Linked DNA regions of Homo sapiens. The protein of the gene in region 1 purifies or fractionates together with the protein of each later gene. This does not show direct contact. Each region holds a gene or a part of one and is shown in the gene's direction. Other genes may lie near its edges.

Region 1 (3,657 bases):
TGGTCTTGAGTTCCTGACCTCAGGTGATCTGCCTGCCTCGGCCTCCCAAAGTACTGGTATCACAGGCGTGAGCCACTGTGCCTAGCCTGATTTCACTCTTTTAAAAAATTCTTTATTTTTATTTATTTATTTTTAGAAACAGAGTCTCACTTTGTCACCCAGACTAGAGTGCAGTGGTGCAATTATAGCTCACTGCAGCCTCGAATTCCTAGGCTCATGTTGAGTAGCTGAGAGTATAGGCGCACACCACCATGCCGGCAAATTTTTTAATTTTTTATGGAGATGGAGTCTCGCAATATTGCCCAGGCTGGTCTTGAACTCCTGGCCTCAAGTGATCCTCCTGCCTCAGGCTCCCAAATCTCTGGGATTACAGGTGTGAGCCACCATGCCCAACCCCCTCCCCACTTTTTTTTTTTTTTTAATTCTGTGTTGTATTATTATTATTTTTTTACTCCCTGGCAGGGACCATTCCTTACTACAAACTTGATTTTCTCTGAGATTTAATTATACATCATTTGCACGCCACCCTTCTTAACTGTTTGTGTATGATCTTTGCTTTTTTTTTTTTTTTTTTTTTTTGAGATGGAGTCTCACTCTGTTGTCCAGGCTGGAGTGCAGTGGTGCGATCTCGGCTCACTGCAACGTCTGCCTCCTGGGTTCAAGTGATTCTCCTGCCACGGTCTCCTGAGTAGCTGGGACCACAGGCGCCTGCCACCACACCCGGCTAATTTTTTATATTTTTAGTAGAGATGGGGTTTCACCATATTGGCCAGGCTGGTCTCGAACTCCTGACCTTGTGATCCACCCACCTCAGCCTCCCAAAGTGCTGGGATTACAGGTGTGAGCCACCGCACCTGCCCTGATCTTTACATTTTTACCCTACTGAAGGAAAACATCACTCATCGGAAGTGATTCCATGGAATATTTTTTTTTCTTTATTTTTAGAATGAGCTCTTTATTGAATCAGGATTTGAGGTGATTATACGCTAAGCACAACACTGGATCCTATCTTTGTCTAGCGCGTGTCTTCTCAAAAATAAAAGTGCAAAATAAAAAACAAAACAAAAGAAATAAAAGTGCAAATTCTGCTCTCAGCCGGGTGCAGTGGCTCACGCCTGTAATCCCAACATTTTGGGAGGCTGAGGCGGGCGGATCATCTGAGGTCAGGAGTTCGAGTCCAGCCTGGCTACCATGGTGAAACCCCATCTCTACTAAAAATACAAAAATTAGCTGGACATGGTCACGCGCTCCTGTAATCTCAGCTACTCAGGAGGCTGAGGCAGGAGAATCACTTGAACCCAGGAGGCAGAGGCTGCAGTGAGCCGAGATGGTGGCATTGCACTCCAGCCTGGGTGACAGAGCAAGACTCTGTGTCAAAAAAAAAAAAAAAAAAAAAAAAAAAAATTCTGCTCTCATCTACCACTTCCCGAAGAGAAAGCATGAGAATGCATGCATTGAAGAGGCTGCTGGTAGCAGAGAGGAGAGGCCAGTTCATGGGGATTGTGAACATTGTTGCAGTTGCTTCCATTCAAAGGTAACTCCTCAGCCTTTCTCCTTTCAGGTGGTATAAGTTGAAATCCAAACCAGGAAAGAAGGACAAGGAGCGAGGAGAAATTGAGGTTGACATCCAGTTTATGAGAAACAACATGACTGCCAGCATGTTTGACCTTTCTATGAAAGACAAGTCTCGGAATCCATTTGGAAAGCTGAAGGACAAGATCAAGGGGAAGAATAAGGACAGTGGGTCAGACACCGCCTCCGCCATCATCCCTAGCACGACACCTTCGGTCGACAGTGATGATGAGTCTGTGGTTAAAGACAAGAAAAAGAAATCAAAGATCAAGACCTTACTTTCCAAGTCAAATTTGCAGAAGACGCCTCTTTCCCAGTCCATGTCTGTCCTGCCGACTTCAAAGCCAGAAAAAGTGCTGCTTCGTCCCGGAGACTTTCAGTCCCAGTGGGATGAAGATGACAATGAGGATGAGTCCTCCTCGGCCTCGGATGGTGAGTTTCTGCCTCTTCCTGCTTGACCTCTCTTCTTCCTCTTACCATGCTTCGTTCTGAGAGAGAAGAAACAGACAAATCTCAAGAGAAAGAGTTTAATTCAATTCCTCAATTACAAAATCATGGTGGTGGGGATGATGATAGCGGTGGTTAAGATGCCCTCTCTAAGGCTAGGCGTGGTGGCTCACGCCTGTAATCCCAGCACTTTGGGAGGCTGAGGCAGGCAGATTGCTTGAGCCCAGGAGTTTGAGACCAGCCTGGGCAACATGGTGAAACCCTGTCTCTACAAAAAATATAAAAATTAGCCAGATGTGATGACATACTCCTGTAGTCCCAGCTACTCAGGAGGCTAGGCTGGGAGGATTGCTTGAGCTCAGGAAGTAGAGGCTGCAGTAAGCTGTGATCGTGCCACTGCACTCCAGCCTGGGTGACAGAGTGAGACTCTGTCTCAAAAAAAAAAAAATGCCCTCTCTGTTTCTTTTTTTAAAATATTTTTTGTTTGTTTGTTTTAGAGACAGGGTCTTGCTCTATTGCCCACGCTGGAGTGCAGTGGCGCGATCATAGCTTACGGCAGCCTCCAACTCCTGGGCTCAAGGAATCCTCTCACCTTGGCCTTCTGAGGAGCTGGGACTACAGGTGTGCATCATCACACCTGATTAATTAAAAAAAATTTTTTTTTTAGAGATGAGGTCTCACTATGTTGCCCAGGCTGGTCTGAAACTCCTGGCTTCAAGTGATCCTCCTGCCTCAGCCTCTCAAAGGGCTCTTATGACCGGTGTGAACCATTGCCCATGGCTGAGATGCCCTCTCTATTTCTAAGCCCTCTGGTTTCTTTCCTTCTTTCTTCCTTCCTTCCTTCCTTCCTTCCTTCCTTCCTTCCTTCCTTCCTTCCTTTCTTTCTTTTCTTTTCTTTTGAGATGGAGTCTTGCTCTGTCACCCAGGCTGGAGTGCAATGGTGCGATCTTGGCTCTTTGCAACTTCCGCCTCCTGGGTTTAAGCAATTCTCCTTCCTCAGTCTCCCGAATAGCTGGGATTCCAGGTCCGTGCCACCACACCCGGTGAATTTTTGTATTTTTAGTAGAGTTGGGGTTTCACCATGTTGACCAGGCTGGTTTTGAACTCCTGACCTCAAGTGATCCACCTGCCTTGGCCTCCCAAAGTGCTGGGATTATACCCTCTGGTTTCTAAGAATGTATAAATTCCTTTTCCAGAGTTCCTGGCTCTATAAATGATGTCCACTAGTACAAGCTTTTAGAGCTAACAGAATGAGTGTCTTCCAAGTTTTTTTTTTCTTTTTTTTAAGGGTAAAACCATGGAACCTTATGGTAATTCTGATATTTCATTAATTCATCAGGTAGTTATTGAGTTCCTGTGATGTGCTCAACCCTCGTGGGATATAGCCTTATCAGAAGCCAAGGAATCTGCTTCCTTTAGCTCTGAGTTAATTATGTATTTTGAACTTCAATTTCAATGTCTAAATCCCTCCCATTGGCCGGATTCTGCTACTCTACCAAGAGTGCTGCCCTTTTCATTGGTTTAACCCAGAGTTTCTCAACCTCAGCACTGTGGACAGTTTAGACTAGACAGGCCTTTGTCGTGGGGGGCTGTGCTATACGTTGTAAGATGTTCAGTATCATCCTTGTCCTCTACCTG
Region 2 (2,420 bases), on another chromosome or scaffold:
AAGAAACGCCCAGTATTCTCAGAGTGCCGTATGAACCATCCAGGAAAGCTGGCAAATTCTCTAACAGTTAATAAAGCCAATTGTATTGTATTGATAATTGGACAAAGAGAGAGAAAGAAAGAAGGAAGGAAGGAAAAACTTGTTACTGAAAGAGACTACACTATCAGGTTTCATTACATATTCTCCTTTATTGTGAAGAGTAGTTTTACCTGTAAATATTAGCAGGGACTATCAAGAGTGACCTTTGAAGCAAGCTAAATCATTTAAATGTTTAAATTGAAAATGGGCCAGATTCTCAATGAATAAGTGGTTCCTTAGGACTCACTCAGGTGCTGGTACTGACCCACTAATCTGCCATAGGCCCAGAAATATCTTCAGAAGTACGTGAGTTGTTCCTCAGGAATAGATTTTTCATAAAGCAGAATTGATCCTGTGGCTGGTTTCTCAGAAATCAGTTTGTAGAAATATTTAGCTTCAGGAATACTGCTCGTTATAAACACTACTAAAAAAACAGTTTATATTTTATATACACATATGTACATGAATATATATATATTCATGTATCTTGTATATAAAATATAGGCATATACCTCATATATACATGTGTTTTTAGAACATTTAGAAACAATTGATTGCCTCTAAAGTTAGGCTACCAATTTCTTGATTTGAAAATGTGTGTGCTCTATTGATGCAAGACAAGTCATCCTTCCTACTGTCATGGTTTGTTATAGAGAAGCTGCTTCAAATCACTCTTGACTACATGGACCTTGGTTTCAAAGTGAGCTGCTATATATTATTCTAGCATCAAAGTTTTTCTCTTTCCCCAAAAGTGATGATCTCAAGTCCTTTTTTAAAGAATGACAAATTTTAGGAGACTTCATTAACTTCATAACAGCATGAATTTATTTGAATTAATTAACATTTGAGTTTGTTTAAGGTATAAGCAGAAGATAAGCTAATATAGCTTGTTTTGTTGAAATTCTGCATGCCTTTAAATCACTAGCAAAGCAAATATTATAAAGTTATATCTGAAAATAATTGTGGGAAGTATGTGATTGCCTGGTGTGTCTGATAACCCAAAGCAGCGGGCAGATTCCAGGAATGAAGAATTAGGCTTGGTTTCAGGTTACATAAATAATAGAGCAGATGGTTGCCTTTGGGTCTTGAACCAAAATAAGACTTACTAAAGGAAGAGTGAGTTTTTAGAAGAGAACTTTACGAGCGTGACATTATGCATTACTCCACATCCACCCTTTAAGAATTGATTTATTACAAAATTATGTTCTATTTTAAAGTCCACTCCCCCAAAATACTGATTTCTTCCATGGATTATTTTTATATGATTTGTACAAATTTTTTCTGAAATTTAAATTGACAAGCAATGTTATAAAAATATTGCTAATCTTCTGCTTATTTTTCAGCCTTTAAAGTCTGAAATACTATAAAACACTGAGAGTATCTATGTCTTTCTGAATTTAAAATGAAAATTCATGTCCATATGGAGACTTACATATTCCCCAATCTTTCCATGAATTGCATTTTTTTCTAATACTTATCTCTGTTAAGACTCCATTGAAAGTTAAACAAAAAGCCGATATAATAGTTTGGGTTTTTTTTTTTTGCTTATTTTAGTATTTTGAATCAGAGAATACTTGGCCAAGCTCGTATTTGTAAACTAAAACCCCTTGTTATTTGTATCTTCTGCATTTCAGTTTTACTGTAAGAACATACATTTTGAAATTATGAACATTTTTTTCATAAAAATTAAATGCTTTAAGAAATGGAGAAGGAAAAATAGCTTTTATCAATTTTTTTCTCCTCAAGATTCTGTAATAAACCTCAAAGTCTGGTGTAGAATGGTATTTTCCCGTTTGAGGTCTTGGTAGTTTTTTTTTTTTTTTTAAACATGGTGCCACTTTTAATTAACTAAATGTTACAAAATTCTCAGCATTTGTTTTTGTCTGGTAGTATTATTGAGTCTTTTCATACACTTCTTAAAATGTGAAAATCTATGTTTTCAGTATTATGACAGTATCTGCAGATACTATAATAATATGCTTTGGCCAAATTTGCTGTTTATAGAGTGAACCAAGATGTCAGTTTTGTATTGGGGATATGTTTTACATAAATAGAACTCATTTAAAAGTATGGTTCAAGTACTGCTCTTCTTTTTATGGGGAAATTGATTTTTAAGGAGCGATTCTTTTCCTATATAAAAGCTATTGAGGCTTAGCTTTATTCATACATGAGTGATTTGGTTATAACTCAATCAAAATTTTTATCTTTAAATCTGAGACAAGTATTATATTTAAAACTAGATCTATTAATACATTCATCACTGCCTGAAAATTTGCTGTTCTAATGTTTGTGAATTTTCACTCATTACCTAGAGTAAACTTATTGCATATTTTCATAATCAG
Region 3 (3,657 bases), on another chromosome or scaffold:
TAGCTGAGATACCAATGCAGAGACAAAGGAAAATAAGGACTAAAAACACACAGGGATGTATGTTTAGAGTAGCACCAAGTACCACTGAGTAGGTATGAAAGAGTGGAAGAAGACCACTGAAACCTTCGGGAGGAAAGCACAGCTTCTCACTTTGTCATGCATTGCCTCAGCCAGAAGGCTTTGGTCAGCCAGACTAAGGAAGGTGGGACATCCTCTATGTGGGAATTAGTGTTTAAGATCTCAAGGGACAGTATTCTAATTCCTGAGATATGTCTTAAGGCAGCATCCCAGAGGTGGGGACCTGATGCTGAAGGGGAGGAAGGGAGGCTCCTGTCACCCTTTATGACATGTTCTGCCTGACCTGCACTCTTCTGTTTTACCCCCATCTCTCCTCCTCCGCTTCTCCCTTGGCATCCCACAGCTCTAAAGTCTTTCTGGAAATTGACAACCGCCAGTGTGTTCAAGACTCAGACCACTGCTTCAAGAACACGGATGCAGCAGCAGCTCTCCTGGCCTCTCACGCCATACAGGGGACCCTGTCATACCCTCTTGTGTCTGTCGTCAGTGAGTGGCACTGGTGTAAAGGGGAAAGGTGGCGGGGGAAGAGTGTCAATTGGGGGAACAATTTTCATTATGTAGCCCTCTATTTTTTCAGGACTGTTGAGGTCAAAGTTGCCCTCTAAATGAATCTAATGCTGACATTGAGAGGTTAATGTTTTATTCAGCACTTTCCCTGTCTCTGTGGACTTTCAGGTGAATCCCTGACTCCAGAACGCACTCAGCTCCTCTATCTCCTTGCTGTTGCTGTTGTCATCATTCTGTTTATTATTCTGCTGGGGGTAATCATGGCAAAACGAAAGCGTAAGCATGGCTCTCTCTGGCTGCCTGAAGGTTTCACTCTTCGCCGAGATGCAAGCAATCACAAGCGTCGTGAGCCAGTGGGACAGGATGCTGTGGGGCTGAAGTAAGAGGCATTGCCAATAAGCCACTATTCACAGTATAAGTAGGGATGACTAGAAAAGCATATCTTGTTGAATCATGATTTTAAATTCTAAGCTCTGGGCATTTACTCACATTGACCATGATTCTAAATGCCTTGTGAGTGACTGAAACCACAGTCAGAGCGTGGGTGCATCTATTCTGTGTATATTATCACAATGCCGCCCAGCTTCTGTGTTGAGGTGCCCTTTTGTTGTAAGCTCACGATCAATGGGAAGGGAAAGGATGAATGCCAAGGGAATGTCACCAAAAATACTGCCCATCTTCTCTGGGCCAAGACCCTGCAAAATTGTAATATAGCCACGGGAGTGTGTCATGGTGGAAAGTGTTGAAAACCACTGTATTAGTTTATGACTGCCATTCTTATTTTTTCTTTTTATAATCATATTAGAAATCTCTCAGTGCAAGTCTCAGAAGCTAACCTAATTGGTACTGGAACAAGTGAACACTGGGTCGATGATGAAGGGCCCCAGCCAAAGAAAGTAAAGGTGAGGTGGCCATGGTAGAACCACCATTGTCAGCCATTATCTGGTTACATTTCAAATTTCTGTCCTTTAGCTCCAGAGTGTCCTGAATGGGAGTAAAGAGTGATAGTCTTGATGTCTTACCCAGACAATAACTATCCTAGGTTCTCCTAAACAGCAGGAATCCTTAGGACGTAAATGACCTTGGGTTACCTATATATGCTCTTCAAGAATAACTCTTTAAAAATACTAAGCACATCTGTTTCCTTTAGTGTTATGCTGGCAGTAGTCAAGTCAGGAATGGTGTGTGTAGATGGCAATTCCTTCATGGCCACATCTCTTCCTTATCCTTTATGGGCACTTCTTCTATAAGAGAAGATGAAATTAAGCAGTGGAAGAAAGCCAGTTATCATTGACATTGGCAAAATGAAAGCCAGTGATCATGGCAAAACGTTGACATTGGAGGCTCCATACCTTGAGCCCAGGAAACTAAAGCCATATAAAAGCAAGTGGTAGATTGGGCTGAGACTGACATGAAAAAGCAGACCATCCATCCACAGCTGTGCATGGCTGGGAGCTGGTGGAGCATGATGGTTAAGAAGATTGCTTTAGTTAATATCAGAACTGGATTCAAATCCAAAACTCTGCCGCTTAGTAGCTGGCAAGTTACTTAACCTCTTTGTAATTATCCTTCCTTGTAAAATGCGGATAATAATAACCCTTTCCTCTGTGAGTTGTTGTGTTGGCATATGTGCCTTATCTACTTTCCTGTCATGTACTAGGTATTCAGTAAAGGGTAGCTGCTTTTAAATTATCATGATTATTATTATTGAATAGTCTTTCCTGAGTGCTTACTACATGTTGGGTGCTATGTTGAGTACAAGGAAACAACCTTGAACAAGGCTTATTTTCCCTTCTTGAGAAGCTTACAGCCTTGTGGTGGAGATGGCCATGTAGTGCTGTGTAAGCATTTAACACATGATCAGTTAAGCAGAGGTAAGCAGAGTATGCTTTTTAGGGCCAACAAGAAGAATTAAAGTTTACTTTCTAGTGGAGGGTAGGAAAAGTGAGAATTGGGTGCTCTGGAGATCTAAAGGCTAAAGCCTAGAGTTTGGGATTGGGGGAGGGAGTTGTCTAGATGATGCAGGAAAGGTAAGCAGGAGCCACATCACGAGAGCAGTGGGAAGCCAAGGCTGAGGTAATCCTCTGGAGGGGTGGAGGAGTAGGAAGAGAGAAAACAATGGGAGATAAGCAGCGGTGGTGGAGGCTCTGGACACCTTCTGATTAGCAGTTTCTGGTGGTGGCCAGATTGATAGGGAGCATTGTTTTCACCTTTCAGGCTGAAGATGAGGCCTTACTCTCAGAAGAAGATGACCCCATTGATCGACGGCCATGGACACAGCAGCACCTTGAAGCTGCAGACATCCGTAGGACACCATCGCTGGCTCTCACCCCTCCTCAGGCAGAGCAGGAGGTGGATGTGTTAGATGTGAATGTCCGTGGCCCAGGTCAGCACCGGGCCTCTTCCCCTCTTCACTGGGCTGTGTCTGCCCATGGTTCCACATTGTTGTCCCTGTGTTTGCCCTGTCCAGTCATAAACCCCTTCCCAATTTCACAGACTCTAAATCAGCTCGAGGAAATGAATGCTTAAGGAATGTAGCCACAAAGAAATTATCAGCTCAGAAAGGGAAGGATTTCACATTGCTTCATGTACAGTGTGTTGAGACTAAACAGGCTGATAAAATGGGTTAGATTGTAGTGGGATAGAAAAATAATATCCCAAAGCAGAGGATAGTTAGTATCTTATGCATGTATTAATTGTTCTATTAATATTAGATATTTTTAAATGTCCAATTAAAATAACAGCACTTAAACTTGAACAGAAAAACGTGTTTAGAGAAGAGCCCCCAGCTTAAAAAGACTTGTACTTTCCCATTATTCTTTACAGAAATGATACTATCAGAGGAAAAGGTGGCAAATGTGAAACTAATAACCAGTTACTACAAGAAGTACAGGGAATTCTTTGCCCCTAAGAATAACTTTAGTCAAATAGAGCTGTTTCAACCATAGGGTTAACTACCTTCTCCTTCTTGAGTACTTTATGGAATTTTCCATTCCTACAGATGGCTGCACCCCATTGATGTTGGCTTCTCTCCGAGGAGGCAGCTCAGATTTGAGTGATGAAGATGAAGAT

Evidence for each region.
Region 2: the proteins of RAB11FIP1 (region 1) and RAB11FIP2 purify together in Homo sapiens (affinity purification with western blotting, with the first as the bait; one study listed by BioGRID). This does not show direct contact.
Region 3: the proteins of RAB11FIP1 (region 1) and NOTCH2 purify together in Homo sapiens (affinity purification with western blotting, with the first as the bait; one study listed by BioGRID). This does not show direct contact.

What each region holds. Positions count from the first base shown.
Region 1 is NC_000008.11:37,875,456-37,879,112, reverse strand, and holds part of RAB11FIP1 (rab11 family-interacting protein 1), read left to right. Parts: intron 1-1,561; coding exon 1,562-2,004; intron 2,005-3,657. UniProt on the Homo sapiens protein: A Rab11 effector protein involved in the endosomal recycling process. Also involved in controlling membrane trafficking along the phagocytic pathway and in phagocytosis. Interaction with RAB14 may function in the process of neurite formation.
Region 2 is NC_000010.11:118,006,649-118,009,068, reverse strand, and holds part of RAB11FIP2 (rab11 family-interacting protein 2), read left to right. Parts: coding exon 1-71; 3' UTR 72-2,420. UniProt on the Homo sapiens protein: A Rab11 effector binding preferentially phosphatidylinositol 3,4,5-trisphosphate (PtdInsP3) and phosphatidic acid (PA) and acting in the regulation of the transport of vesicles from the endosomal recycling compartment (ERC) to the plasma membrane.
Region 3 is NC_000001.11:119,919,543-119,923,199, reverse strand, and holds part of NOTCH2 (neurogenic locus notch homolog protein 2 isoform 1 preproprotein), read left to right. Parts: intron 1-421; coding exon 422-564; intron 565-753; coding exon 754-964; intron 965-1,390; coding exon 1,391-1,487; intron 1,488-2,802; coding exon 2,803-2,971; intron 2,972-3,586; coding exon 3,587-3,657. UniProt on the Homo sapiens protein: Functions as a receptor for membrane-bound ligands Jagged-1 (JAG1), Jagged-2 (JAG2) and Delta-1 (DLL1) to regulate cell-fate determination.